7 separate regions of the Homo sapiens genome follow, and all the other regions are reported to be linked to region 5. The links are microRNA targets in miRTarBase. Many come from high-throughput screens and were not tested one by one. Region 5 holds a microRNA gene; each other region holds the end of a gene's coding sequence.
Evidence for each region. The annotated mature microRNA hsa-miR-125b-5p reads UCCCUGAGACCCUAACUUGUGA and lies in region 5 at 2,775-2,796, opposite strand. An mRNA with a match to its seed (bases 2 to 7 or 8) in the 3' UTR can be bound and repressed. Matches are read on the target gene's strand: a 7mer-m8 pairs with bases 2 to 8, a 7mer-A1 pairs with bases 2 to 7 and ends in A, and an 8mer does both.

Region 1 (4,075 bases), not on the chromosome of region 5:
ACCTGCGGCGGAATGTGCTGTGTGGGGCCATAACACCCCAGCAGATCGCTGTGATGACCTCAGAGGTGAGCCCCTGTTGGAGGGGCTGGAGGGCTGCTCCCTCGGAGCGGTGGGCTAAGCCACTGGCCCCGTGCTCCAGGAGATGGCCAGTGATGAGCTGAAGGAGATCCGTAAGGCCATGACCAAGGAGGCCATCCGAGAGCACCAGATGGCCCGCACTGGCGGCACGCAGACAGACCTGTTCACCTGCGGCAAGTGCAGGAAAAAGAACTGCACCTACACACAGGTGAGCGGCCGCTGGGCACCCTCCCCCGGGCCCGGTGTCTTCAGGGCATCTGGTGCCCCTCCTTGGAGCCCATGCCTATTCCCGCCTCTGCTGCATGAATTTCCCGAGCCTCTCAGTCCCTGAGTAGGCTAAGGCATGATGGCCACCTTCAGGGACCACTCCCCTCTACCCAGGACCTCTGGGCTCCACGGGGCGGCGTCTTGGGTGGTGGGACCCACTTGTTGCGGATACTCAAGTCAGAGGGCCTGGCCTGGCCCAGCCCAGCCTGAACGGAGGGCCCTCGAGGTGTTGATGTTGGTGGGAGGGCCGTGCTGCCTGCTGCCTGGCAGTGACTGCAGGACCCTCAGTCCCTGCCATGGAGGTGGACACTGAGTGTGCTGGGGAGACTGTGGATCCCATGAGATGGCAGGGACCCTGTTAAGAGGGGAGTGCGGCTGGGTGCAGTGGCTCACATCTGTAATCCCAGCACTTTGGGAGGCCGAGGCAGGCGGATAATGAGGTCAGGAGTTCGAGACCAGCCTGACCAACATGGTGAAACCCCGTCTCTACTAAAAATACAAAAATTAGCTGGGCGTGGTGGCGCATGCCTGTAATCCCAGCTACTCAGGAGGCTGAGGCAGGAGAATCACTTGAACCCGGGAGACAGAGGTTGCAGTGAGTCCAGATCGTGCCACTGCTCTCCAGCCTGGGCGACAGAGCGAGACTCCGTCTTTAAAAAAAAAAAAAAGAGGGGAGTGTGTCGAGGCGGCCGCTGCACCTGGCAGATGGGACTCGTGAGGGGCTGCAAGGACAGCCTTTCCTTCCCCTCGAAGGCTGCATGGGGCCTGGGTCGGTGCAGAGCCTGCCTCTCTCCTGCTCCCAGCCACTGGTCAGAACAGGCTCTGCCTGTGGCCGGAGGCTCACCCTTGGGCCTTCCGGAAGGCAGCCGCGGGCACTGGGGACCCCTGCTAGTTCCCCCCACCATTGGGACCCTCTTGCCCTCAGCCAAGTCTGGGCCCTCCTGGTCCCCAGCCAATGTGAGCTGCTTCAGGCTCACACAAGGGCCTCTGCCCCGATAAACTCTGTCTCCCTCCCCCGGAGGCTCAGCTTTGGAAGGTTGGAGTCACGAGGCGGCCTCGGATCAGGTCACCTGTGGGAGCTCAGTGGCTGCGAGGCCCGCACTGCCCATGTTGAGGGGATGCCGTCTGCAGCGGAGCATGGAGGTGACCCTGGGTTCACCCAGCCCTGTTCACAGGTGCAGACCCGCAGCTCTGATGAGCCCATGACCACCTTTGTTGTCTGCAACGAGTGTGGAAACCGCTGGAAGGTGGGTGAGCAGGCTCAGGCTGCCCCTCCCAGCTCCATTCTCTGGAGGTGGGGTGTCTCAGCCTCTGTGGGGTCTGTGGTGTGAACTGGGGATGGCCCTGCCCAACCAGCCTCCTGGGAGTCTTGGGCATGGTGGGTGGAGAGCCCAGCCTTGGGTGAGCCTGTGCGGCCTTCCACTCTGGGGGATCTCATGTGGCCACAAGGCTGGAGGCCTCACCCCCTTTCTCGCAGTTCTGCTGACCCCTCGTGTAGATGTGCTGCAGCCTTGGGCCCTCCCCGGCCCACGTCCTCCGTTGACACAGCTTCTCTGGAGACCCTAGAAGGCGGCATGTCCTGCCCTCAACCTGCCTGCCTGGATTGCACCTTTCTGCCCTTTCCCCCTCATTATTAAATGTTTCTTTTTGCCATCTTGTTCTCCTCAGCCGTTACTCCTGGTGGGCCCCTGTCCCCCATGTTTGACCCGTTTCCACTGCTGTGGACAAGGCCCCTCCCTGGGGTTGGGCAGTGCTTGGGTTTGGCCCTGGTGGGTCAGCCCCAGGAGAGGAGCTTGGCTGACCTTCAGAGATCACCTGGGGCGGCTCTGCCTGTGAGGGCAGGTGGGGAGAGGGTCTTGTGTGCGTCCTGTGCAGGGCAGTGTCCTCCCCAACGCCTCAGGCATGGGCAGCTCGGGACCTCTCGGCACTTCAGGACAGCTTGTCCCCATGCTGCCTTCTCTGTTCTTGTGGGAGTTGTGGTCTCAGGGCCCTGAGCCAATTTCAGCTTCAACTCACTTAACTTCCCAGAAATGCAGGGGATGGGCTGGTGAGCACTCAACTCATGGGGCCTGTGAGATGAGAAAGATGACATTGGGCCTGGCACCAAGTGGCCCCTCCTGCCCCAGCCAGCCTGCCTCTGGGGACCCCGTCCGGCTGGGCCTGGGCGGCACCTCCTGTTGCCTCTCGACTTCTGAGGTGCTGTGGGTCACTGTTCTGGCCCGACTTTCAGCTAAGGAGGCTGAGGCCGAGGGCGTGGAGCTCATGCCCCGGGCAGGGTTAAGCACAGCCACCCACTGGGACCACTGTTCTGAGGAGGGGTCTGGTGGAGGCCAGGGCATGGGAAGAGGGCAAGCACACGGCTGTGTGTCCCCTCCAAGGGGCACTGGAGCCCCTGCCCTGGGACAAGGACACTTCTCCCCAGCCCTGAGTCTGGGGCCACTCATTCTCCAGTCTCTCCCCAGACTTGGACAAAAATGAGTAGAGACTTTGCTTTAAAAATATCTTCAATAATAAGACATCCTATTTTTGGGGGGTTAGGGATAGAGATAAATATGAAAACTTTTTTTTGATAAAACACCTAGTAAGGACATGTTTCCAGGTTTAAAGTTCATGAACATATAAAACAGAAATTGGGTCCTGCCACCTTGAGTGCAGGATTCTGAGGTCCTAAATCTGGTTCTGAGGTTCTGTGTTTGATTCTGGGGTACAGACAGCTCAAGTAGGAGGTCTCCTTATGTCACAAAACTACACGATGCGGAGGTTCTGTTCCCCACCAAAGGCTTGTCTGGGGCCCATTGGCTGCCTGGGGAGGAGGCCCCAGCGAGGCTCATGGGTCCAGCATGGCTCCTGGGGGGACCCCTACTCTCACCACGCAAGAGCCCCCAGCCAGGAGCACTGGGCCAGCCAGCTGCGGGCCGATGAGGGGGCTTCTGGCCCGCCCTGCACCTGGAGGCCCGCCCTGCACCTGGAGTTCCTGCTTGGCCACGGGTGGGCAGACCCAGGAGACACAGCACTCCCCACTGGGTCTAGGACCGTCTCCGCGGGTGGGGACCCCAGCCGGCCAGGCATGTGCCCTGACAGCCCTGCCGACAACAACACCTGAAGGGAACCCAGAGTCGGCCGTAGGAGGCGGCGGGGTCTGTGCTGCTGGGGGCGGCCTAGGCCTCGGAGGAGGACTGTGATGGCCCCTGCAGCAGCAGGGCACGGTAGGTGGGAGAGCTGAGGAAGCGGGGGTAGGAGTCCCGGTGCATGAGCGTGTAGATCTGCAGCTGCGCGTCGTCGAACGTGTGTGCGGACGGCTCCTGCATCTTCTTGTTGATGCCCTCCCGCACACGGGAGTCCAGGCTCACCTGCAGGACAAGACACTGAGGTCAGGGGGTGCGGGAGCTGCCTTCCCCACCTAGTGCCTGGAGCAGGCGGCCCCCGGCCTGTTCTGGTGTCTGGCGCACCTCCTTGGGGGACAGGATGGATACGTAGTCCTCGTAGATGAGCCTCGCCTTCTCGTCTACCACATGCTGGTTGGCCTCGGCCTTCAGCTCCTCGCAGGCCAACCAGAAGAGCATGTTCTCCTCGCTGTACTCTGTCCGCAGGAACGCCCGGAACACGCTGCGTCCCGCTGGGCTGTGCATCAGCTTGTCAAAAGACTGCGCCCAGCTCTGCACCTCCTCAGGACTTGGCGTGGCACTGTGGGCACGGGGGCCAGGCTATGTCAGGCCCGAGTCTCCCGGTC
Region 2 (4,075 bases), not on the chromosome of region 5:
TAATTAATGTTTTTAATCAAATTAATTATCACAATTGGCTATGAGGAATTTCAAACCTATAAAGTGAAATAGAACTTATTTAAACTGACTAGTAATTCTGTAACTTTTATTTTACAGGTCATGTAATGTTTGCAGAAATAAAAATGGAGAATGGAAAGTCAAAAGGCTGTGGAACAGTCAGATTTGACTCCCCAGAATCAGCTGAAAAAGCCTGCAGAATAATGAATGGCATAAAAATCAGTGGCAGAGAAATTGATGTTCGCTTGGATCGTAATGCATAATTTCAAGCCATGGTTGGAACATTCCTACATCTGTTTTGCTGAATCTCCTAGTAAAAGTCATTTTTTTAAAGTAATATTGTATGCTTACAAAAGCTGTAAAAATGAACTTTTAAAACTCCCACCAGCTTTTAACAGTATAATGTTAAAAATATACTGTAATTTTTGTTAATCTCAAGTTTGGGTTTTTAAAGACAGCAAGTCTGGTCATTCAGTTTAAATGAATGGTTATACTGTTTTTAATGAAATAAGCCATTTTCTTGTTGTTTTCAGTACTACATAGTTGGATTTGTTTGTTCTAGTTTCTCCAGTTTTTGTCAACTTATTGTATGGTAAAACATAGATTTTTTCCCCCCAAACTTCTGTTTTATAATATGTAATTTTTCATGAAAAGAAAGGGCTCAGAAAAATTAGGATGTGATTTTGGTTGGTTTTAAATTACTGTAAGTTTTAGATTCTAAGGTTCAAGATTTTTAAAATTTGATTTAAATGAAGAAATGGATTTTTCTCTCTGCCCCTCCCTGCCATTCATATTTTCTGCATAACACTATTAATAATATCAACCTCCACAGCCCCTTATTTTATTATTTCCAATAATTCCAAGTTCATATAGAACTGATAATGTAGCAAGCCCCAAGTATGATAATAGGCAGACTATTCCCAACTTTCTGTCTAGTTTCCAGCCATTGAAGTGAACTGCTAAAAAAAGAAAAATAATTGAAATGTTGAGAGAGATGGTTATGTAAGTTAGTCCTCTGCTGTTTACTTCTGCAGGAGCTGATCCATTTATAAATGCAGTTTTAATAAACCATGGAATACCAAGGCACAACATATCAAACACATTGGATCCCACGATGTTAGACATAGCCATATCTCCTTTCCCTACAAAAGAAAAGCATACTGTTAAAATGTGCTTACCAATACTGTGTTTTATTAATAATCTTCATAAGAAAAGAAACACTGGATACTTTTTTGTTGTTGATTCGTTTTGAAAAATTGTTGTTAGAGCAAAAGTCTTACTGAATTTGTATTTTTAAATTTTTCTTGGGTTAGTATTTAAAGTCTTAACATTTATTTAATAATTATATTTATTAAACCATTTTTCAATAAGGTATATAGCTTATTTGTTGCTTTTCATTGTAATTTAACATGGTTAATGGTTAATTACTATTTAACACACATTTCAAATGAATATTATTTGGGGGATTAGATTGAGTGAAATTAACCTGCTATTAAATAGTAAACTTTTCCTCTGGAGTCACTTTTTTCCCCCTTCAAAGTATGTTACTGAGGAAGTAAACTTTTTTTTTTTTTTTTGGTTTTTGTTTTTTGAGACACAGTCTCGCTCTGTTGCCCAGGCTGCTGGAGTGCCGTGGCGCAATCTCGGCTCACTGCAACCTCCGCCTCCTGGATTCAAACAATTCTCCTGCCTCAGCCTCCTGAGTAGCTGGGATTACAGGCACATGCCACCACGCCCGGCTAATTTTTGTATTTTTAGTAGAGACTGGGTTTCACCATGTTGGTCAGGCTGGTCTCAAACTCCTGACCTCGTGATCCACCCGCCTCGGCCTCCCAAAATCCTGGGATTACAGGCGCGAGCCACCACACCCGGCTGGAAGTAAACATTTTTAAAGCTACTTTTACTCATTCTAGCCTTGTAGAATGACCATTGCAGCTTGAGGGACCTAGTTCTTACCTTTTCTTGCAACCAACACACTTGCAATTGTGTCTGGTATGCTTGTTCCTGCTGCTAATAAAGTAAGGCCCATTACTGTATCGGGAATTTCTAGTGTTTCCCCTGTAATAAACAGATATTTCAAGTTACAAATCTTAAAGATTCACTAACCATCCTTTGCAGTTATTTTGGATATTTCCTTCGTGAACAAAAATAAAATAGGCACATTTAGAATTCAGAGCCAATATGTGCTTGCTTATTAGTTTTTTAGCTAGCAACATATTTGAATCAGGCTGGTAATTCGGGTAACCCAGGTAGCACAGATTTTTAATGACATATCTAAAGATACGTAACAGCTAAAATTCTGCCAGTGAGAAATTTTCCTGTTTGATATTCTTACAAAAGATGTTTATGTCCACCATTATCTCATCAGGGCTGTGCTGAATATTTGATAATGAGACTGATCATTCCGCTTTTTCTTTCTTAAAAATATTAGTCAGAGTTAAGCAAATTAATTATAGCTATCTTTAAGCTATAAATGTGTTAACATGTATATATACCATTTATTATGTTCTACTTTAGTGATATACCTTAATTTAGTGGGCTTTGGCAGGGCGGGGGAGGGGGAACGTTCATTAATCTCTGAGGAAAACAAAACCTGTTTTCTACTTGAGTCTAACATATGGTCCCAATTTATTAATACTTCTGTTAAATTTGATGTCAGGTCAACATTTTTCAGAAATGTATTTATTCTCAGAAACAGAACCAGAGAGAAGTTAAACAAAAGGTTATGTAACTGTTCCTTTAATGTTGTAATTGAAAACTTGGTTTAGCGTCTTTTTTTTCTTTCTCTTTTTTTTTCTTAAAATGCCAACTAAAATAATTAGAAAGTAGCTTATTTATTGCATGCTTATACATTGATATTGGAATTGGAATTGGTTGTTAATTTCTGTTACTGGCTTTGCTAGAATTCATATGTGCATAAATAACACTAATATTTATCATCTTGGGGGCTGTTCTGTGATCTATTACATGATTTTTGCTCTCTTTTTATTTTTCTAGTATCAAATGTGTTCTGGCTGAGTGAATTTGGATAGATATAATATGCAAGCTAATTGGACTTTTTCATTTTTCTCATTAAAAAAAGGAAGAAGTAGTCCACTTTTTGCTAGCATACTATTCTGAGACTTACATTAATTTGGGAAAAGTCAAGGGTCAACAAATTTTTGTGTCTGTGAGGGGCCAGATAGTAATTATTTAGGCTTTGCAGGCTGTGTGATTTCTGTTGCAGTTATTCAGCTTTGCCAATGTAGTGTGAAAACAATCATAGATAATATGTAAAACCTTACTAATAAAAACAAGCTGGGTTATGTTGGCACACAGGCAGTAGTTTGTTCACCTCTGCTGTAAGTTAATTTGGGTTAACCTTTGTAGGAGAAATTACAGATTATTTTTGTCTTTGTTCATAGTTTTTTTGTTTAGGGACTGTAGTGGATTATGGCCAAGCAGCAGTAGCTAGTTAAGTCTTAATCATGAAGGTAGTAGAAACCTAGAATAAAATTATTATGCCCTTTTCACTCATTTCATAATATGTTTGTATTGCCGTGTTGAAAAGCCAAATAAAATACAATCCAGTTAAGCAGTGAGCACCCATTGTTTTCCCAAAAATAGAGCTCCTTGCTTTGTTTTTGTTTTTTTGTTCTTTTTTTTTTTTATTATGGAATGGAATTCAATATAAAGAGTTTATTGTGGACCCCATGGAATGTGATTAAATTATTAGCATAATAAAAAGACATCCTATGAATTTGATTTCATTTATAAGATCTCTTGAATTGTACCCCAGGCTAAATAACAGTGGAAAATACAGTTTATATATAATATGCAACTCACAAACTCCAGTGATCTTGTTATAGTAATACTTAATCATTTTGTAAATGGTACTAATCTTCAATCTTGCTGAAAAGAAATTTGCTGTGTAGCTAGACTACTTTGAGTGAACATATGCAATTTGTTCTTATATGAATATTTTCAAGTTGTGCTATTGTACTTAAAATACATACCAGTTATTGTGACCATCCAAACCAGGATATATGTAAATGCGGATATCCATATTGCAGACATG
Region 3 (4,075 bases), not on the chromosome of region 5:
GTGTAGTATACCATGGAGGCTTAAAAAGAAAGACAATAATAAGAATTGTATTGTTTTTACAAAGGGATCCACTTTATACATATTGGACATTAATCGTCATCCTTGAATGTGTCATTACAGATGAACTGAGCGCCAATGGACAATATCAATGTCTTGCTGAACTGTCCACCAGCCCCATCACAGTCTGTCATGGCTCCGGTATCTCCTGTGGCAATGCACAAAGTGATGCAGCTCACAATGCTTTGCAGTATTTAAAGATAATAGCAGAAAGAAAGTAAATCTGGAGCAACTTAAAAAATCTTTCAGTAGCACATAAAAAGTTCCCCTCTGGCCCCTTCCCAAGTAAAACTTTTACCGTAGTGTTTATGTCTTGTTTCTAAATCTCTTCATAGATTCCATCAACACTCCAGATTTAATTATCTCCTCATAGTTGTTATTAAGCTCTTTTTAATGGCTTCAACTTTGTATCAGTATACTGTATTTATAAACTTTGTACCACAAGAGAGAGTGTAGCACCCATTTTACAGTGCCATGCACATCAGAGAAAGAAACTGCATGTTTGTTGTTGATGATGAAATAAAAATGCTAGCGACAGTCTTTCTTACTGGTGCTTAAGCTCTTCTTTGCACAAAGCTTTATAAAGGGAATTCAAAGGAAGCCCTTTAGAATTAGAGTCTTGAGGGACAGCACTAACAGGCCTTTATTAAGTATGATTGATTGTTAAATTTCAGGGAACATGATTGGTCTGCTGTGTATTTGAATTCATGTAACAAAGAACTGTTACGATGGGATTCTGCTCATTTTATTAAAAAGCTACTGACTTGACTGTCATCCTGTTCTTGTTAGCCATTGTGAATAAGATTTTAATGTTGATAATTCTGTTATTTACATATCTCTAATTTACTTTGAAATTCAAAGGTGAAAATAAAAAATGATGGCCTAAGTAAAATTTACAAACATACATGTAATGGGTTACTTCCTTACTTTCTCTAAGCGTATGCAACCTTGTATTTTTCTTTGACATAACCATACACAGGTGAATTACTAGTTTAAAAAGCATTTGACCATGCATGTTGGCTCATGCCTATAATCCCAACTCTTTCGGAGGCCAAGGTGGGAGGATCCCTTGAGGCCAAAAGTTTGAGACCAGCCTGGGCAACATAGTGAGTCCCCATCTCTACCAAAAAGAAAATCAGGTGTGGTGGCACACTTTGAGTCCCAGCTACTCAGGAGGCTGAGGTGGGAGGATTGCTTGGGCCCAGAAGATCAAAGCTGCAGTGAGCTAGGATCACAGCACTGCACTCCAGCCTGGGTGACAGAGTGAGACCCTGTCTCAAAAAAAAAAAAAAAAAAAAAAAAAAAAAGCGTTAGTAGAATTACCCAAAAAACCTTCCCAGCTTATTCAGTTCAGTTGCAAGAATGTTCCAAAGTGATGAGTGATTAAAAGGTTAGGAAATAAGTCTAATGAACAGATTTTAACCTTACCTTTTGTGTTTCCATATATAATCTTGTAACATCTCAAGTCTTCCATCTGTCAGCGCCGGCTCGTGCTAGCTTTCTACATTAGGTGGAAGTCTCAGCTCTGTGTTTGGAGTGCAGGGAAAGCTTCATAGAGGAAACATGAATGAAGGTAGGTCTCATGTATTCATACAGAAGGAAGCATGTAGCAGGTATTTTTGTCTGGAAAAAAATCATATCTGGAATTCTTTGAGAACAAAACTACAAAATAAAGGAAAACCAGTACATGTAACTTATTTTAAATTCTAAAGAGCACTTACCATAGTTCCATATTCTAAGCTCCATTTGTTAAACCATAGAAACAGGTACTTTTTTGGCAAGGTAAGGAATAGACTTAAAAGACTGGAAAAAAAACTAGGCATAATAGGATCTTGTGACTCTTTAAAGACTGAACTAAGGTTTTAGTAAATGGTCTTGGATATGGGGGAGGCACAATGAACTCTCCAAGATGACATTAGACTTCTGCATACTGAAATCCTGACTTGGATAAATTGGGGGAAAATTTCATAAGGCTGATGAAAAGGATATTACGTGGTTGTAGACAGTCCGTATGTATTGATAAAATGAGGTCTGAGGATAAGGTGCCCAGAAGATAAAATTGCTGCTGCCTCTGCTTTCCCTGCTTCTGGCTCTGGAGGAAAGTGCATTACACTGTTCGAATGTCACTTCTCAGACTATCCAGACCTTCTAGGGAGTTAGGGATTTTCTTGGACCATCAGGTGTATTCTTTAACACCATTTTGTTTAGCCCTCTGCTAAGGCTCTTAACCAATCTAATTAGTCAAACTTGTTAAATATAGGTTAATTTCTCAAATAGGCTCAACAGGTAATTGTGTCATAGTCATCTTCATAGTGTCAGTTCTAACAAGAACATCCATTAAGTGATAAGTGACTTTAAAAGATGAGGATGGCAATAGCACAATATGATAATACTAATTCAATAAGTTATTGAGCACTAATGTGCCCAGCACTATAGCAGCCTCTGGGAATATGTGGGCCCATATTGTGTTATTTGATGAAGAGCCGCTCCCTTGTTCTCGGGGTGTGCTGTGATATGCCACACAGTCCCCTTCCCTACAGAGGATTTTGTTTTCTCGCTCTGGCAGTGTGCACCCAACGGCCCTCAGCTGTCAGTAGAATTGCCCTCTTAAGTGAAAAGAGCCACCTCATCTGAAGTCACACTTCCTTCTTGGGCCAGGCTGCATGCAAAGACTAGTCCCATTGCCCCATATTAGAACAATCTGAAAGACCATCCTAGCTTCAGAGTTCCCCTTAGTGTCAGCTAAGGCCACCTTTGAGATTGCATCATAGTCCATATTCTTCCTCCACCCAGTGGAGTTTCCTTTCTTTCCACAGGTGGCAATCCAAATCTCCTACCCACTAATCTTCATCTCAGCATCTGTGATACTTGGTATCAGAAGGGTTGCAGGAAAGTAGGTGCTCCAGTGTGCTTTTGGAGCCATTTCTCTTGCCTTCTCACTTATAGGATGAGAGTCTCCTCACTGGGGCAGGGAGAAGTTAACTGCTAGCACACCCTGACAGTGCAGTTATTAAAACTTTGACTAGTGGTGAACTGAGATGGCATGTCAACACAAAGAAATGCACCGGCAGGCACGAAGATCAGGTGGGAAACAGTGTAGACAGTGGAACTGAAGAGTTATTACTGAGCTAGACCGATACCTTGGAAAAAGATAACAGAAGAATGAGAATGGGCCAGGCATAGTGGCTCACACTTGTAATCCCAGCACTTTGGGAGGCTGAGCCAGGAGTTTGAGACCAGCCTGGGCAACATAGCGAGACCCTGTCTCTACAAATATTTAAAAAATTATCCATGCCCAGTAGCTTGTGGCTGTAGTCCTAGCTATTTGGGAAGCTGAGGCAAGAAGATCACCTGACCCCAGGAGTTTGAGGCTGCAGTGAGCTATATTTGCACTACTGTACTCCAGCTTGAGCTACAGAATGAGACCCTGTCTCAAAATAAAAGAATGAGAGTGATTAGTTGGTAATTAGAAGCTGAGTGTGGGACCAAGAGCCGTGGCTCATGCCTGTAATTCCAGTGCCTCAGAAGACTGAAAAGGGAGGATAGCTTGAGGCCAGGAATTCAAGACCAGCCTGGGCAACATAGCAAGGCCCATCTCCACAAAAATTTAAAATCAGCAGGGCATAGTGGCATGCATTTGTTGTTCTGTTACTCAAGAGGCTGAGGCCAGAGGATAATTTGGGTCCAGGAGTTCAAGGTTACAGTAGCTTACTGTGCCACTGCACTCCCAGCCTGGGTGCAACTACACACTCAGCCTTAGTGACAAAGCAAGATCTTGTCTCAAAAACAAACAAAAACTCAGTGTGAGGGCCAGAAAGCCTCCCTCGTAGAATATGAGACTCTCAGGTTCTCAAGCCAATGAGGAGAGGAAGCTGAGGACCAGGCCCAGGACTTAGTCATGAGAATAAAACTCCAAAGAAGTTAGGACCCAAGCTAGGCAGGTCTACTGTGCTGTTGTCAGGACCCTGATTGGGAAAAAATGGAACCCTGACACATGGGATGAAACCATCTGGGTTGA
Region 4 (4,000 bases), not on the chromosome of region 5:
TGAGGGGGGATTGATTCAGAGGGTGAAAATATTAAGTACTGCCAAAGTGAGGGAGTGGGGACAAGGGGTGCTATTCAATGATTCTTTTTTTCTTTTTTGAGACGGAGTCTTGCTCTGCTGCCTAGGCTGGAGTGCAGTGGTGCAATCTCAGATCGGCTCGCTGCAACCTCCGCCTCCCAGATTCAAGCAATTCTCCTGCCTCAGCCTCTTAAGTAGCTGGGATTACAAACATGTGCCACCACTCCCAGCTAATCTTTGTATTTTTTTGTAGAGATGCAGTTTCACTATGTTGGCCAGGCTGGTCTCAAACTCCTGACCTCAAGTGATCCACCCGCCTCGGCCTCCTAAAGTGCTGGGATTACAGGTGTGAGCCACTGCATCCAGCCTCAATGATTCTTCTTTGCTTCCTCTGCAGGGCGGACCCCACAGCCAGACTCAGCACTCATTCGCCAGGCCTTGGCTGAGCGCTGGAGCCAGTGGTCACTTCGTGGAGGTCTAGAGATGTTGCCTCAGGCCCTTGAAACCCACCTGACTAGTAGGGGGGTCAGTGTTCTCAGAGGCCAGCCGGTCTGTGGGCTCAGCCTCCAGGCAGAAGGGCGCTGGAAGGTAGGGGAACCCCTGGAGTGTAATGAACCTGTCAGTGTTTCCATCTTTATCCAAGTGGCTTAACTAGGCCAGGGCCGATAGGACTGGAGTTCCTCATTGTTTTTGTGCCTTAGAAGCTACTTAGACATGGGCTACCCCAGAATCCTAGGCCCTATTTGTGAACCTTCCTCAAAGAGCCTATGCAAGTCTGTGGATAGAAGTAGTACTTATAAGTGGCTTAGAGATAGGGGAAAGAACCCAGCTTCACTGAACATTTCAGAACAGCCACACTGGCCTGTCTGGTCCACTTCCTGGAGTACACAGAGGAATGATTTTTTGTGAAGTCTACATAGTCACCCAATCTCTTCATCCTGGGTCAGTACACAGTCTCCCCGGCCACATGGGTGCCTGGGAAACTGAGAGTGAGGCACCAGAAGTCTCTTTTCACTCATCAAATTCTCATTTTCTGGGTCTCTCAAATGTTTTCATGCTCTCAGGTATCTCTAAGGGACAGCAGTCTGGAGGCTGACCACGTTATTAGTGCCATTCCAGCTTCAGGTAATGGAATAGCCACCTTCCCCTTCCCCAACCCCTACCAGTGAGAAGCAAAAGCTATACCTTCCTGGGTCAGCAGGACCACACCATGCCCCTGAACTGGTCATCTCTATGGGAGTCTAATCCCAAAGAGGACTGACAACTGTAATGGGAATGCCTTCTGAGTCAGGCCTCTGCCTGATCTCTAGTGCTCAGTGAGCTGCTCCCTGCTGAGGCTGCCCCTCTGGCTCGTGCCCTGAGTGCCATCACTGCAGTGTCTGTAGCTGTGGTGAATCTGCAGTACCAAGGAGCCCATCTGCCTGTCCAGGTATGATAAAGGGACGGAGAGGCTGGGCATGGTGGCTCACACCTGTAATCCCAGCATTTTGGGAGGCCGAGGTGGGCAGATAACAAGGTCAGGAGTTCGAGACCAGCCTGGCCAACATGGTGAAACCCCATCTCTACGAAAAATACAAAAATTAGCCAGGTGTGGTGGCTTGCACCTGTAATCTCAGCTACTCGGGAGGCTAAGGCAGGAGAATCGCTTGAACCCAGGAGGTGGAGGTTGCAGTGAGCTGAGATCTCGCCATTACACTCCAGCCTGGGTGACAGAGTGAGACTCTGTCCCCCCCACCCCCCCAAAAAAATGGGAAGGAGAGACAGCCTCAGCTAGAGCCCTTTCCTTCTGACGCATGAATGTCCTTCTCTCCAGGGATTTGGACATTTGGTGCCATCTTCAGAAGATCCAGGAGTCCTGGGAATCGTGTATGACTCAGTTGCTTTCCCTGAGCAGGACGGGAGCCCCCCTGGCCTCAGAGTGACTGTGAGGAGGAGGAAACTTTGCCTAGTGGCATTTCCAGAGGGCTCCTCTGTGCTCCATTGTAGGCAAGGCCAGACTGATCAGTGCTATATTCCCTCCTTAGGTGATGCTGGGAGGTTCCTGGTTACAGACACTGGAGGCTAGTGGCTGTGTCTTATCTCAGGAGCTGTTTCAACAGCGGGCCCAGGAAGCAGCTGCTACACAATTAGGACTGAAGGAGATGCCGAGCCACTGCTTGGTCCATCTACACAAGGTAAGTTGGGATAAACTTCCCTCAGCTCTCCACTGAAGGCCTTGAAGACAGAGACTGGAACATTTGTCACTGTATGTCAGCCAAGGCCTAGGACATCAATAATAAACTTTTCCCTGCATCCTCTCCTCTCTTCTCAGAACTGCATTCCCCAGTATACACTAGGTCACTGGCAAAAACTAGGTAAGTTGGGAAAACAGCTGGGCTGAGGAGGGCCAAGGACATCAGACCCCCAGCTAAAACATTCCTTTCATCCTTTCCTTCCAGAGTCAGCTAGGCAATTCCTGACTGCTCACAGGTTGCCCCTGACTCTGGCTGGAGCCTCCTATGAGGGAGTTGCTGTTAATGACTGTATAGAGAGTGGGCGCCAGGCAGCAGTCAGTGTCCTGGGCACAGAACCTAACAGCTGATCCCCAACTCTCATTCATGAAAATAAAAATTGCTGGAGCTTGGCTTGGTCTGGCTGTTCTATCACCTATAGGCATAAGAATGCGGGGCAGCAAAGAGGCAAAGTGTGCCTGGGATGCAGAAAGCAGGAGCAGATGCGAGACAAAGTCCTTTATTAGAAAATATATCAAAATCCCAGCCCCCTGAGCCAGGACCAGAAGAGGGAGCTATTCCAGCATAGGCAGAAAATGCCCAGGGAGGGGCTTCCTTCACCAAACAACTTCCCGGGAACCATAAATAGAATAAATATTCACAGAGGTCCGAGGAGAAGCCAGATCACTCTTCTCTCCATGGAAGAGGGAGGGGCTTGGGGTCCAGCCCTGCTCCTACTCTAGGGGCAGGGACTCCTAGGAATCGTCACATAAAATCATGACATCAAGGATTCACAGTCATAAGCCCTACAGGAGACCCTAGAGAGAGGGACCCCTCAGGTCTACAGGAGCCCAGCTCCAGTCCAGCAGTGAGGGAGAGGCCCCTACCCCCTAGCACGGCACCAGAGTTCAGTTCCCTCACATCCCTCTGAGAACAGTGAGGAGCTGAGGGTGGGGAGAATACAACCCCATGAATTCGGTTTCATGATTAAGGTAGACAGGAAGGAGGAGTCAGTGTGAACCTCGGAGGGCTGTGTGGTTGGCAGTAGATAGAGGCCCAGGCCTGGCTGGGGGCCGGCGTTGCAGCATCTCTTGACGGAAGGCTTGGGAGGAACCAGGTGGGTAACGTGGCCCAGAAGGAGCCCGAGGACCCCGAGGGTCAGTCCCAATGTCTGCTGTGATGTTGGTATAAAGAGGCCCCAGCTCTCGAGCCAGCAACTGGTATGTCAGTGAGTTCATCCCATCTTGCGTCCAGGAATTCTGGGTACGGACCAGGAGGTCAAATCTGAGGGTTAGAGGTTGGAGACTAAGACCCAGAAAGGAACAGCCAGAAATCTAGGGACCTTTAGGATTTTCCTGGCTAGGGGTACAGAACCCTGAGGATCCAGTAACAATTCCCAGGCAGTCCTTCCTTCTTCCTACCTGTGGGGATTTTCCTCATTGCCCTTATCTCCTCGGTGCTTCACCATCTTATAGTGTCCTACAGATGTGGGGGGCCGAGAGATCTTCATCCCAGCCAGGCGCACCCTATGGGAAAAGTGAGGGTATCATGGGGGATCCAGAGTAGAGAAAAGCAAGGAAGGGATTAAATGTTTCTGTACACACAAAAAAACAACTATTACTTAGTAGGCAAAAGAAAAAAAAAGCCCAGGACAGAAGTCAAACAGAAAGAAGGAAATGGCTGAAGAGAATATAAAAGCTGGATGTATCCAAATCCTCAGGGCCCAGTGCCAGTCACCCTAGGGCCTTTAAACAGTTGGCAACCTATTCCCT
Region 5 (4,075 bases):
CCATGAACCCTGAAATGAAATATAATCATATTTAGATTTGGCAAAATTCCAGAGTGGCTTCCTTGATGGATCCTAAAAGGCTTTAAAAAATGCTATTTTGGAAAATTGATGTTTTCCTTACAGAGATTAAAAGTTAAAAGCATGAATATCACAATATTATCAGAGCAATACAAAAGAGACAAAAGAAAAGCTAATACTTCATTGGTCTTTGGTAGATGTTGAAGTTGAATGATGATTTTTTTTGCCAAAAAAAGGAACTTGAAGTTCACAGTAAATTAACAAACAATATGGGAAAGAAAATGAATCAGGCAGGGGTTAGTATATTTATGTAAAACAGTGATTGGCTATTTCAAAATTAAAATGTACAAATAAGCTGGTGTCAGAAAGGAGATGATTCCTCATTTCCACCGCATTGAGCAAGCTCACATCGGCAGCAGACAGCCCTTAATATATGCGTCTGGCTCAGGCTGGTCTCCCAACCAGGAAGCCATCGAATTGTTAATATCACTGTTTTTTTTGCATGCAACACACATCATTTTCTCGCTCTTTGTTGTAGATCTCTCCTTTTTATTTTAAGCTTAGTATGATCTGATTTTCCAAATCATATCATAAAGCCCTAAAACAATATTATCCTGTGACAGCTGAGATAGAAATGCAGAAAAAGTGGCATCTGTCTATGCACATACAGCATAAAGTAGCCTACATAAGCAAAGTCACCCACTTAAATCTATATACACCTTTATGAAGTAAAAGAAAAGCTTTGTCAATGACGCTCTTGAAAGACTGTTCATATAGGAGGGTTACATAGAGAAGTTCCAATTGTGCAGGATTATCAGTAAAAAACATTTTATATGTTTATGGTGAAAATGAACAAACATGACTGCATTCTCAATTCAGTTTTGGTATATTTCTTTTATGAGACAGAAGTTAATATATAGTGTGGTTCATGAATATGATAACATTAAAAAATTTTCACGTTTGAATAACCTATATCTGATATCACTATAGCCAATAAACATCTACCCCTTACATTGTTTTGGAACTAACTTGATGGAACCTTTCACAGATATTATTTATGATCATGTTAAAACAGATGTTAGTAAACACATACTTGTATGTGATATTCTTTTTTACAAGAAGTACTTTCAGATCCATTGTGTGAACATTGCTATTAAATGTAATCAAGCTTCTGTGTACATGTAGACACACATACATAGATTTCTTTGTATTAAGAAACTTATGGTTTTAAAAAATACTCAATTCCAATGAGAATGAGGTCAAAAGAAATAAAAGATAAATACTACCAAAGCTCTTTACTGTTTATATTACCTCCTTTCATTTGGAGCTTTAAAACTTATATTTATACATATACATACACACACCTAAAATTTCAGAACTTCTAGATAAATGAAGTAGATGATATAAATAAAGAATCTGAATAGGTACAGTGTGCATACATGCTTAAACATATTCTGCATGCTTTATATAGATGTGTATGTTTATGATATTGTTATAGTAATTTTTAATAACTATGACTAATAGATGATTTGTATTCTGTAATATTTCAAGTAGGTATTATAAGAAATTTTTAAAAAGATGAACAAAGACTCCGTACAGTATTCTAAAATACATTCATAAATTTATTTTAACAATGCAGAAGACACATAATTTATGGCACCCATCTAAGGCAATAGTTAAAAGAATGAAGCCACTTTGTTGCTTCTATTAAGGAAAGTCTGTCATCTCCATTTTGAATCTTGATATTTGTAACATTATTGTAAAATTTTTAAATAGATTTAGCATACTGATTCTATCTCCAAGAAAGACATATCTGATGTGGCAATGGCTATTAAACTTTCAAATATGACATATTACTTATGGTTGGAATAGTTACCTCCGATAAAGCTAAAATTCTTATAAAACTAAAACTATGCAGTTCATATGCAGTTGCTAGTCAAAGCAGTTTGACTTCATAGGTGGCGTTTACTGTTTTATCTCACGTAGGCCCATGATATGTACACAGTAAACTGTAAAAAATTTTAAAAAGACATATTTTCCCAGATTATTGGTGAAACTTTCACTCTTGGACTCTCGTAACAAAATAATTGTTAGAATTGTTAAGACATATAAAGTATGTTGGTTGGATAGAAGACTCAGAAAAGCCCTGGCAATAAATACAAAGTATAAAACAGCATTCTTCTTAAATCGGTAGTAAAATCTAATAGGGTCAATAAAGAAGATTGTAAATCATGTTATTTCTAGGCCTCAAGCATGCTTATAGCTGTATATGACATAGTCTGAGCCATAGTTATATGGAGGCATACAGGATTTATTTAAGTAGCTAATGTATATATTTCAATGCATATGAAAAGTTATAAATATAATCCCCTCTCTTCATTAACTGAAGAGATATCCTCTTATACTAGCCACCTTAAAATGCACCAAAAGAAGCATTTTAAAACACTTATATTTTAATTTTGCTTCTTACACAGGTTTCTTATATTGCTTTTGTATGATCGTTATAATACAAACGCTATTTCAGTGCAACTGTGTAATCACTTTAGAGTACAGTTTCTGACAATAGTATTTTTGGGGATGGGTCATGGTGAAAACGTTGCTGATGATAAAGAAAAGCATTGTTCTTTTCTCCTAGGCAGAATCTATGTATGTTCTTTTGTTCTGGTGGTAACTGCAGACAATCAATAAGGTCCAAAGCTGCTGGTTCCCCTCCGCCTAGGTCCCAAGAGCCTGACTTGTGATGTTACTAAAATACCTCACAAGTTAGGGTCTCAGGGACTAGGAAAAGTCTGGTTTGATGCGGTAGAATTCTTCTTCCAGAAATAAGGATAGCTTAGAAATTACAGTTGGGTTCACTTAGACTTTTACCTCTAAATACTATTTAAAATACTTCAGTAGAAATATATATGATATATAAAAGTTAGGATGAGCTGAGTAATCACGACGACCATTTATAGACTAATTCCAGACCTTAAAATAATGAAGAATATGAGAAACAATGCAGACAATGAACAGTTAAGAGTCATTCCATTAGATCCAAAGAAAGAGACTAAACATGGGTTAAAATCTGCTTCTAGCAGATTTGTACAGCAACACCATAGCCTCTATTACATTAAAGAAGGATTATATGCCAGTTAATGGGACCCTAATTGAAATTTTGCTTCCCATTACACTGCTATACAGCACAACTGGTAAGGTGGGCCCAGGACATATAATACTTTAAATCGGATTTAAATATATACCGTTGCAGTTAAGAACAAAACAAAAACTTTTCTGCATGTCATAATTTAATACCTCTGAAGCTTGATTTTTCTCTTTGAATCTCCAAACTATTCAGACAGCAAATATTTCCACGCATACTCTGTAGTTATTTGAGCAATGCCACTTAATAAACATGTAATTTAAAATGCTGGCAACATCATAAAAAAACCATGATTCTATTTCTTGAATAATTACATTATAAAGCTCAATACTTTTAAAAATACACAACCCCAATCCTGTATATTCACTGAATTTCCTCCGATCTTTTAGCCTTGTTTGTGGTTCGAGAACAGAATTTGTACTTTAGGAATGATCCAAGGTTTAGTAGCATAGAACGCAGGGTAAAACAATCGGACCAGCCATAATGTAAAAGTCCTGGCCACAGAAGTGGAATCTGGCTCTTCTGAGGTGGTTGATCTTAAAAGGGAAAAGAGGAGGAAAAAAAAAAAAATGGAAAGAATTAGAATGTTTTCCTGTAGAACAGGTGAATCATCCATTTCCAAGTAAGCTGCAAGGAAAGCTATACTGCACAAAATATTTGGTAATTGGCCCCCCTCCTCCACCCTAGTACCACACCCCTTTCCAACCACCACCCCCCACCCCCTGTCCAGATCTTTACTCTGCCTTGTAAGACTTTAAATATTCTGCTCCATGATGTAATGCATCATTATATAAGATCTCTTTCTGTTTATCATTTGATTTCCCATACTGAATCACTTATGGCTTAAAATAAATAGTTAAAAAACAAAAACCAAAAAAACAAAAAAGCAGCACTCACAAAAAGCGAAAAAATAAA
Region 6 (4,075 bases), not on the chromosome of region 5:
CCACGCTAGGAAAGAGCCGTCCTCACTGTCTGTCCTCTGCCCCCAGGTTGGCTGGAGATGGAGTGGGAGCCGTGAATATCTGTAAGTCCTTGGCTGCGGCCCATGGGAAGCATCCCTTGTGCTGTTTAGATGGGGCTGGGTCTAGAGAATGGCAGACTGGCCCAGGGCCCTGCTGGAGGGGCCAGGAGACTCCTTCCTTTCTACAGGGATTGACAGGTCCCCTGGAGCACATACTGCCAGGCTCAATGGCCTGGGAAGCACTACAAGAGGGCAGGGTGGGGCCAGGAGCACCTGGGGAGCAGCCCTACCCCTGTCAGATGCTCCTTCTGGGTTGGCCCATGGAGGGGGGCAGGGGTGAGGGAGAGGGGCAGCTGGGGCAGGAGGGTGGGGTGCAGTGAAGGGATGGGGTCCCTGGTAGGGAGCCTCACGCTGAAGAGAGCCCTCCTCTTTTCTCTCCCAGCTGTGATGAATTCCACTGGTGGCAGTAGCAGTGGCGGTGGCATTGGGCTGACCCTCGGGGGAACCATGGGCAGCAATGCCCTGAGCTTCTCCAGCAGTGCGGGTCCTGGGCTCCTGAAGGCTTATTCCATCCGGACCGCATCCGCCAGTCGCAGGAGTGCCCGCGACTGAGCCGCCTCCCACCACTCCACTCCTCCAGCCACCACCCACAATCACAAGAAGATTCCCACCCCTGCCTCCCATGCCTGGTCCCAAGACAGTGAGACAGTCTGGAAAGTGATGTCAGAATAGCTTCCAATAAAGCAGCCTCATTCTGAGGCCTGAGTGATCCACGTGCCTGGTATCCTGGCTTCATGAGGCTGGGCAGGGGAAAAGACGGGACTAGAGAAGGCAGGGTCTCCCTGGTGACTAGGAAGCCTTTTGTGCAGGAGACTGAGAAGGCACATGGTGGGATGGGGTGCTGCTCTAAGGAGCAGGACGCTTACCTAGGGTGAGCCTTGGCCTCCAGGTCTGGGGCTGATCCCAAAGATTCTCCTGAGGAAGCCCAGAAGAGCCACGGGGAAATGCAGGCTCTGCCAGCAATTGGGCCTTGGAGGGCTGCCCTGCTAAGGGGGTGGAAAGGCTGTTTGCCTCCCTCCCCCCATGCCCAGAGCTGCCAGAGCACATTCCTTTTGTGAGGAGGCCACAGACGTTCAGCTGCCCCAGCTTCCAGTTTCGGGTGGCCCAGCCAACTTTCATGCCAGCCGTCCTCAGCCCTTCCTGGTGCTGGGTCTGCCAGGCTCATGGTCAGCCAGGCCTGGGGCCCTGGAGAGGTCCTCTGCATCTTGAATTCTGTGGAGGTAGTGGTTGTGGGGGGGAGGTGTGTGTGTGCATGGGAGGAGGGTCCTAGAGTCTAGATCCCCGGTAACAGGTCTGTGCCTAGGACCTTAGTGGAGGGATGGGTTTGTATCTGGATCCATGGGAGTGGGGAAGGACATCTGTGTTAAGTCAGTGCTTGATGGGGGCTTCTATGTCAGAGTCCCCGACACACAGGTCTGTGTGTCTGTGAGTGTGGCAGGTGTTCTGTGGCAGGGCCTATGCATGGGGAAATGTGTCCCTGATGGGCAGCAGCACATATGATGGGTACTGTGGAGCCACAGGGAGGTCTCTGTGTCTGGGACCCCAGGGGTGATGGTGGTGGTGTGGATGGGGGAGCTATGTGGGATGTGTTGGCTTCTGGGAGGAAGTCTGTATATTTGACCCTATGGTCAGGGAACTTTCAAATGCTGAGGTGGGGGCTGGGGTGGAGAGTGGAAAAAGTGGACCAGCAGCCACAGTGATGGGGTTCCCACCCAAGGTGTCAGGAGATCCAGGCCCTCTCCCTCCCGACTAAGAAGACCAAGTGGGCAAGAGGAAGGAGAGACTCTCAGGGCACAATGCATATGATCAGGAGCTTTACTGGAAATGCTGAGACAAGCACAGGGGAGAGGGAGGGAGCCAGGCAGCCAGGCAGGAGAGGTGGCCTGTCCTGCACGTGTATTAGAAGACATTGGATTAGAAGGCACAGCAAGTCCACACCAAGGGGCTCCAGGCCCATCTGTCCCTCAGAAGCCACAGGCATCCAGGCCTCCGGACCGGGGTCTTTACCTAGGGCTGCGAGGACAGTCCTTTAGATTCGGGGGTTGGGAGAGCTGCGGGCTAGGAGCCCTGTGCTCTCGGAAGCAGTGAAGGGACTAGCGGGCGGGGATGCGAGACAGGAAGGCGCGGCGTGGGGGCCGATGGGGAGGCTGGGCCCCGAAGCCCTCCTTCCCCACGTCTGGGGACCGTGGGAGCTCCGGGCTGCCTCTGGAGGCAGAGGCTGCTGCTGGTGAGGCGGCGTCGGTACAAAGTGGGGCGCTCAGGCGAAGCGCACGGAGCGGCCGCTGCCGCTGCTCTGGCCGCAGGGCGCACACAGGCCGGTGCTCACCGCCACGTTCCCGCTGCAGGGGGCACTGCAGACGCTGCCCGTCACCGGCCGGGAGCCCGACACGCACAGGTCCCCGCATAAGACCCCGCCGCGAGAGCTGCTGACACCTGCCAGAGGGGGAGGACAGGGCCCAGTCTCCTGGCGGCCAGAGGCCCCTTCTGCTCAGAGCTTCTCCCCTCTGTTTCTATGCGCGCCCCTCAAACCCTCACATGGGCACTCCTTCCTGCAGTCTTAGCCTCAGGCGTCCTTGATACACTGTTAGCCCAGGTCCTCTCTATAGGCAGACATAGCCATGCTTCGCCTCACAACAGAGACATGTTCTGAGAAATACAGCATTAAATGATTTTGTCATTGTGCGAACATCATGGAGTGCACATACGCAAACCTACATGTTGTAGCCTACTACACACCTGGGCTCTGTGGCGAGGGTGGCCAACCTTTTTTATTTTTTATTTTTATTTTTGAGACGGAGTCTCTCTCTATCGCCCAGACTGGAGTGCAGTGGCGCGATCTCGGCTCACTGCAACCTCTGCCTCCTGGGTTTAAGTGATTCTCCTGCCTCAGCCTCCCTAGTAGCTGGGATTACAGGTGTCCATCACCTTGCCCGGCTAATTTTTTTATTTTTAGTAGAGACGGGGTTTCACCATGTTGGCCAGGCTGATCTCAAACTCCTGACCTCAAGTGATCCACCTGCCTTGGCCTCCCAAAGTGCTGGGATTACAGGTGTAAGCCACCACACCCAGGCCCCAAGGGTGTCCAATCTTTTGGCTTCCCTGGGCCACACTGGAAGAAGAAGAATTGTCTTGGGCCACACATAAAATACACTAATACTAACGGTAGCTGATGAGCTTTAAAAAATCACACACACGAAAATCTCGTAAGTTTTAAGAATGTTTACAAATTTGTGCTGGGCCACATTCAAAGCCGTCCTGGGCTGTATGCAGCCTTCTGGTCAGGGGTTTGACAAGTTTACCCTATAGCATAGCCTGTTGCTTCTAAGCTACAAATCTGTACAGCATGTGACTGTACTGAAGACTAAAGGCAACTGTAACACCATGGTAGGTATTTGTGTATCTGAACATAGCTAAACCTAGGAAAGTAGAGTAAAAATATGGTATAATCTAATGGGACTACTGTCCTATATTCCATCCATCCTTGACCTAAAAGTCCTTATGTGGTACATGACTGTAGCTAATTAAGTTACTATAAGCACTCACTGCCCCACTCCATCTTTCCTTTTAGAGTCTGCAAACTACGGCCACATGCAGGCTTCCTGTTTGTCAATCAAGTTTTCTTGGAACCCAGTCATACCGCTTCCTTCAAGTATTGCCTTTGGCTGTGGCTGCTTTACATGACAACGGAGTGGAGCAGTTGAGGCAGAGACTACATGGCCCACGAGCCTAAAGTTTTTACTATCTGAAGCTCTAAGAAAAAGTTTGCCTGCCCAGAACCCCAAGCTGTTATTTCAGGACCCACAAAATGGATTACTTACAGACATTTACAGCACCAACGCCCTCACACAACCTTATAGGGAAAGCAAAGAGACAGAAATTAGTTGTGGGGAGCAAAGCTGGTGAAATCTGTTTAACCTGCAAATTCTCTCCTCCAATTAGCGTTGATGCACATTCCAAGTAAATAATATGCAGACATGCTCCTGGGTGTTGAAGCACT
Region 7 (4,075 bases), not on the chromosome of region 5:
TGCTGTATAGGCATTCATTAACTGCTGGGGATATAAGACAGTGACTGTTGAGGACCCTAAGTTTAGCTCCCACCTGATCTTCCTCTGTCTCTGCAGAAGCTGCTGATGGGAGCTCCACCCTGGGAGGGGGTGCCGGCACCATGGGATTGAGCGCCCGCTACGGACCCCAGTTCACCCTGCAGCACGTGCCCGACTACCGCCAGAATGTCTACATCCCAGGCAGCAATGCCACACTGACCAACGCAGCTGGCAAGCGGGATGGCAAGGCCCCAGCAGGTGGCAATGGCAACAAGAAGAAGTCGGGCAAGAAGGAGAAGAAGTAACATGGAGGCCAGGCCAAGAGCCACAGGGCGGCCTCTCCCCAACCAGCCCAGCTTCTCCTTACCTGCACCCAGGCCTCAGAGTTTCAGGGCTAACCCCCAGAATACTGGTAGGGGCCAAGGCCATGCTCCCCTTGGGAAACAGAAACAAGTGCCCAGTCAGCACCTACCCCTTCCCCCCCAGGGGGTTGAATATGCAAAAGCAGTTCCGCTGGGAACCCCCATCCAATCAACTGCTGTACCCATGGGGGTAGTGGGGTTACTGTAGACACCAAGAACCATTTGCCACACCCCGTTTAGTTACAGCTGAACTCCTCCATCTTCCAAATCAATCAGGCCCATCCATCCCATGCCTCCCTCCTCCCCACCCCACTCCAACAGTTCCTCTTTCCCGAGTAAGGTGGTTGGGGTGTTGAAGTACCAAGTAACCTACAAGCCTCCTAGTTCTGAAAAGTTGGAAGGGCATCATGACCTCTTGGCCTCTCCTTTGATTCTCAATCTTCCCCCAAAGCATGGTTTGGTGCCAGCCCCTTCACCTCCTTCCAGAGCCCAAGATCAATGCTCAAGTTTTGGAGGACATGATCACCATCCCCATGGTACTGATGCTTGCTGGATTTAGGGAGGGCATTTTGCTACCAAGCCTCTTCCCAACGCCCTGGGGACCAGTCTTCTGTTTTGTTTTTCATTGTTTGACGTTTCCACTGCATGCCTTGACTTCCCCCACCTCCTCCTCAAACAAGAGACTCCACTGCATGTTCCAAGACAGTATGGGGTGGTAAGATAAGGAAGGGAAGTGTGTGGATGTGGATGGTGGGGGCATGGACAAAGCTTGACACATCAAGTTATCAAGGCCTTGGAGGAGGCTCTGTATGTCCTCAGGGGACTGACAACATCCTCCAGATTCCAGCCATAAACCAATAACTAGGCTGGACCCTTCCCACTACATAATAGGGCTCAGCCCAGGCAGCCAGCTTTGGGCTGAGCTAACAGGACCAATGGATTAAACTGGCATTTCAGTCCAAGGAAGCTCGAAGCAGGTTTAGGACCAGGTCCCCTTGAGAGGTCAGAGGGGCCTCTGTGGGTGCTGGGTACTCCAGAGGTGCCACTGGTGGAAGGGTCAGCGGAGCCCCAGCAGGAAGGGTGGGCCAGCCAGGCCATTCTTAGTCCCTGGGTTGGGGAGGCAGGGAGCTAGGGCAGGGACCAAATGAACAGAAAGTCTCAGCCCAGGATGGGGCTTCTTCAACAGGGCCCCTGCCCTCCTGAAGCCTCAGTCCTTCACCTTGCCAGGTGCCGTTTCTCTTCCGTGAAGGCCACTGCCCAGGTCCCCAGTGCGCCCCCTAGTGGCCATAGCCTGGTTAAAGTTCCCCAGTGCCTCCTTGTGCATAGACCTTCTTCTCCCACCCCCTTCTGCCCCTGGGTCCCCGGCCATCCAGCGGGGCTGCCAGAGAACCCCAGACCTGCCCTTACAGTAGTGTAGCGCCCCCTCCCTCTTTCGGCTGGTGTAGAATAGCCAGTAGTGTAGTGCGGTGTGCTTTTACGTGATGGCGGGTGGGCAGCGGGCGGCGGGCTCCGCGCAGCCGTCTGTCCTTGATCTGCCCGCGGCGGCCCGTGTTGTGTTTTGTGCTGTGTCCACGCGCTAAGGCGACCCCCTCCCCCGTACTGACTTCTCCTATAAGCGCTTCTCTTCGCATAGTCACGTAGCTCCCACCCCACCCTCTTCCTGTGTCTCACGCAAGTTTTATACTCTAATATTTATATGGCTTTTTTTCTTCGACAAAAAAATAATAAAACGTTTCTTCTGAAAAGCTGAACGTTTCTGTATAAGCGATGGAAGCTCCTGGCATGTGTGCATGAAGTGATGAGCTGAGGTGGGTGCTGGAAGAAGGGCGGAATCGGGAGGCCACTTTGTGTCATTGCGCGTCTAGATGTTTCCGAATTGCGTGTGTGTGTGTGACTGTGCAATATGGTTGTGTATGCTTGCAATGCCGTTGTGCCTATGAGACAGTGTGCGATTGTGTGCCTATGGATCTGTGTACCGTGTGCCATTGTGTGATCGGTCCGCTGTGGGGGTGGGGATCTGAGTGCGGCGTGTCAGTGTGCAGTGGAGTGTGCAGTCTAAGCTTGCGGCTGTCTCCAGGCAGAAGAGGAGACCCCGGCGCGGGCGGGGGCGGGTTGGCGCCGGGCAAACGCCTTGGGTAGAGGGGAGAGGACGTTTCGTTAGTTCCCGCCCCTTCCTGACTAAAATTGCCTACCCGAAGCGCCCCGGAGGGCTTCACGGGAGGAGGGTAGACTCTCCTTTGCCCCCGCACCCCCACCCCCGCTGCCTAGGGGTTTTGGGAAAGCCGCGGGAGTGGGAGGGAATGCGGGAGGTGATTCTTCCAAAGCCAAGTCTGCAGCTCGAGCCTCAGTTTCCCCATCTGGAATTCGCCTTCCCGCTGACATCTCCGTAGCGAAGCCTAAGAAATTGGAGGGCTCATCCTCTTCTTGCGGGGGTCAAGGGGACTGAAAGGACGTGCAGGAAATGAGATCCATCGCAGACTCAGCTCCCCTCCCTCCTTCCTGTCGGTGCTTTTCCACTCACTCGCCTGCTCTCCCATCTCCCCGCCCCCTCCGCCTGCCTCCTCGAAGCACTGTGGGATTCCGAGGTTGCTGCAGCCAGAGAAGCTGCAGAAAAACACGGAGCTGGGGGTGAAGGGGGACTTAAAAGGGGAACTACCCGGAAGGACCCAAGAACACAAAGACAGAGCCACTGCGGTTATCTGGCTGGTCAGCAAGGGTATGCGGCTTCCTCCGCGCTGCGGAGGCTCCCAGAGCCAGGTCACCCATTCTGCCAGCTCAAGTCTGTTGTCATGGGAACCAAACCTTCCAACTTAAGAATCTGGGGGCGACTTTCTAGCGTGGGAGGAAGGGTGGTGTGCACGGTTGCTGAGATGGAAGCAGGGTTTTGTTACTCAGAGCCAGGCTGCGGAGGGGCGGGGTGCCGGGCGCCTGGGTTCTATTCCAGGCACAGCAGCAGACTGGCAGAGCGCGTGAGCAGCTGTGGTTTGTCCCCTAATTGGTATGTGTGCCTATAAAGCTCTGAACCAGAAAGGCGTGGCCTCCGGGGGGACGGGAGGGAGGCGGCAGGCAACCCATCCCCACACCTCAGGCCATACTGAGGAGGCAGCTGCCCAGGCTCCAGGGCTATTTAAAAGGCTTTTATTTCCAGTTCCAGAGCCCGCCCGAATGGGTTTGTGGTCCTCTCCAGGCCTCTCCCTGTCTATCCTGGGCCTGCTCATTGCTGGTCTGGCTTTTTTGTGCAGGTCATAACGTGCTCAGACAAGTATGGCTCCAAGTGGCAAGTCATCTGGAGCATGACCTCAGGCTCCCAACCTCTGCTGGGCAGGCTCAGGTTTCCACCCCAGGGTAAACCCCTCTACTCTGGAATGTGGTCTGTGGCCACCAACAGAGCAGAGGGGATGAGAAAATGGGAGCCAGATGCTTCCCTCAGCAAGAGACACAGGTACTGCCAGGAAACCTTGCGTGACATCTGGGAACATGAAAGGTTCCAAGTGAGTTCCAAAAAAGGGCTCCAAACCAAGTAGCAGCAATGTGGAAGAGTCAGGGAGCTGAACCAGGCGCCCACTCCTTTACTGTGGCCAAACGGCCCTGAGGTGAGCTCTGGTGGGGCAGCAGCCACCATGTATTAATCATCTCTAGCCCTGTGCCCAAGTAAAGTGTCTGGCACCTTTAGCTTTTTCACAGTGATTTGTCAG

Region 1: miRTarBase lists RGS19 as a target of hsa-miR-125b-5p. The part of its 3' UTR that is shown has no 7-base or 8-base seed match.
Region 2: the mRNA of MYEF2 is a reported target of hsa-miR-125b-5p. The part of its 3' UTR that is shown has no 7-base or 8-base seed match.
Region 3: the mRNA of PRKRA is a reported target of hsa-miR-125b-5p. Seed matches in the 3' UTR shown: 7mer-A1 at 728-734.
Region 4: the mRNA of B4GALT3 is a reported target of hsa-miR-125b-5p. Seed matches in the 3' UTR shown: 7mer-m8 at 2,778-2,784.
Region 6: miRTarBase lists KRT7 as a target of hsa-miR-125b-5p. The part of its 3' UTR that is shown has no 7-base or 8-base seed match.
Region 7: miRTarBase lists PCDHGB2 as a target of hsa-miR-125b-5p. Seed matches in the 3' UTR shown: 7mer-m8 at 1,195-1,201.

The regions. Positions count from the first base shown.
Region 1 is chr20:64,070,350-64,074,424 of GRCh38, forward strand. It overlaps RGS19 (regulator of G protein signaling 19), which reads right to left. Exons shown (of 6, transcript NM_005873.3): 5 at 3,795-4,029; 6 at 2,832-3,695. The coding sequence ends at 3,504. It overlaps TCEA2 (transcription elongation factor A2), which reads left to right. Exons shown (of 10, transcript NM_003195.6): 7 at 1-65; 8 at 140-286; 9 at 1,521-1,592; 10 at 1,823-1,998. The coding sequence ends at 1,831. Among named protein-coding and RNA genes, the nearest start is that of MIR6813, 4.6 kb to the right of the region's middle.
Region 2 is chr15:48,139,114-48,143,188 of GRCh38, reverse strand. MYEF2 (myelin expression factor 2) reads left to right here. Exons shown (of 17, transcript NM_016132.5): 17 at 118-4,075. The coding sequence ends at 281. SLC24A5 (solute carrier family 24 member 5) reads right to left here. Exons shown (of 9, transcript NM_205850.3): 7 at 4,014-4,075; 8 at 1,975-2,076; 9 at 517-1,160. The coding sequence ends at 838. Among named protein-coding and RNA genes, the nearest start is that of SLC24A5, 20 kb to the right of the region's middle.
Region 3 is chr2:178,428,300-178,432,374 of GRCh38, reverse strand. It overlaps PRKRA (protein activator of interferon induced protein kinase EIF2AK2), which reads left to right. Exons shown (of 8, transcript NM_003690.5): 8 at 121-961. The coding sequence ends at 278. It overlaps CHROMR (cholesterol induced regulator of metabolism RNA), which reads right to left. Exons shown (of 5, transcript NR_110204.1): 3 at 1,486-1,605. Among named protein-coding and RNA genes, the nearest start is that of CHROMR, 17 kb to the right of the region's middle.
Region 4 is chr1:161,168,578-161,172,577 of GRCh38, forward strand. It overlaps B4GALT3 (beta-1,4-galactosyltransferase 3), which reads right to left. Exons shown (of 8, transcript NM_003779.4): 7 at 3,650-3,754; 8 at 2,733-3,512. The coding sequence ends at 3,239. PPOX (protoporphyrinogen oxidase) reads left to right here. Exons shown (of 13, transcript NM_001122764.3): 7 at 416-606; 8 at 1,083-1,143; 9 at 1,329-1,447; 10 at 1,832-1,942; 11 at 2,043-2,192; 12 at 2,330-2,372; 13 at 2,457-2,643. The coding sequence ends at 2,599. Among named protein-coding and RNA genes, the nearest start is that of PPOX, 4.2 kb to the left of the region's middle.
Region 5 is chr21:16,588,974-16,593,048 of GRCh38, reverse strand. MIR125B2 (microRNA 125b-2) reads right to left here and starts at 2,812; the gene lies at 2,724-2,812. All of the region lies in intron 6 of MIR99AHG (mir-99a-let-7c cluster host gene), which reads right to left.
Region 6 is chr12:52,248,131-52,252,205 of GRCh38, forward strand. It overlaps KRT7 (keratin 7), which reads left to right. Exons shown (of 9, transcript NM_005556.4): 8 at 47-81; 9 at 461-791. The coding sequence ends at 630. It also overlaps the pseudogene KRT87P. Among named protein-coding and RNA genes, the nearest start is that of KRT7-AS, 2.7 kb to the left of the region's middle. RefSeq lists enhancers at 1,670-2,276, 3,806-4,075.
Region 7 is chr5:141,510,851-141,514,925 of GRCh38, forward strand. PCDHGB2 (protocadherin gamma subfamily B, 2) reads left to right here. Exons shown (of 4, transcript NM_018923.3): 4 at 97-2,125. The coding sequence ends at 323. PCDHGA1 (protocadherin gamma subfamily A, 1) reads left to right here. Exons shown (of 4, transcript NM_018912.3): 4 at 97-2,125. The coding sequence ends at 323. It overlaps PCDHGA2 (protocadherin gamma subfamily A, 2), which reads left to right. Exons shown (of 4, transcript NM_018915.4): 4 at 97-2,125. The coding sequence ends at 323. PCDHGA3 (protocadherin gamma subfamily A, 3) reads left to right here. Exons shown (of 4, transcript NM_018916.4): 4 at 97-2,125. The coding sequence ends at 323. It also overlaps PCDHGB1, PCDHGA4, PCDHGA5, PCDHGB3, PCDHGA6 and PCDHGA7, and 13 more genes. Among named protein-coding and RNA genes, the nearest start is that of PCDHGC5, 24 kb to the left of the region's middle. RefSeq lists enhancers at 336-445, 2,684-3,309, 2,855-2,974, 3,310-3,935, 3,715-3,964 and 1 more.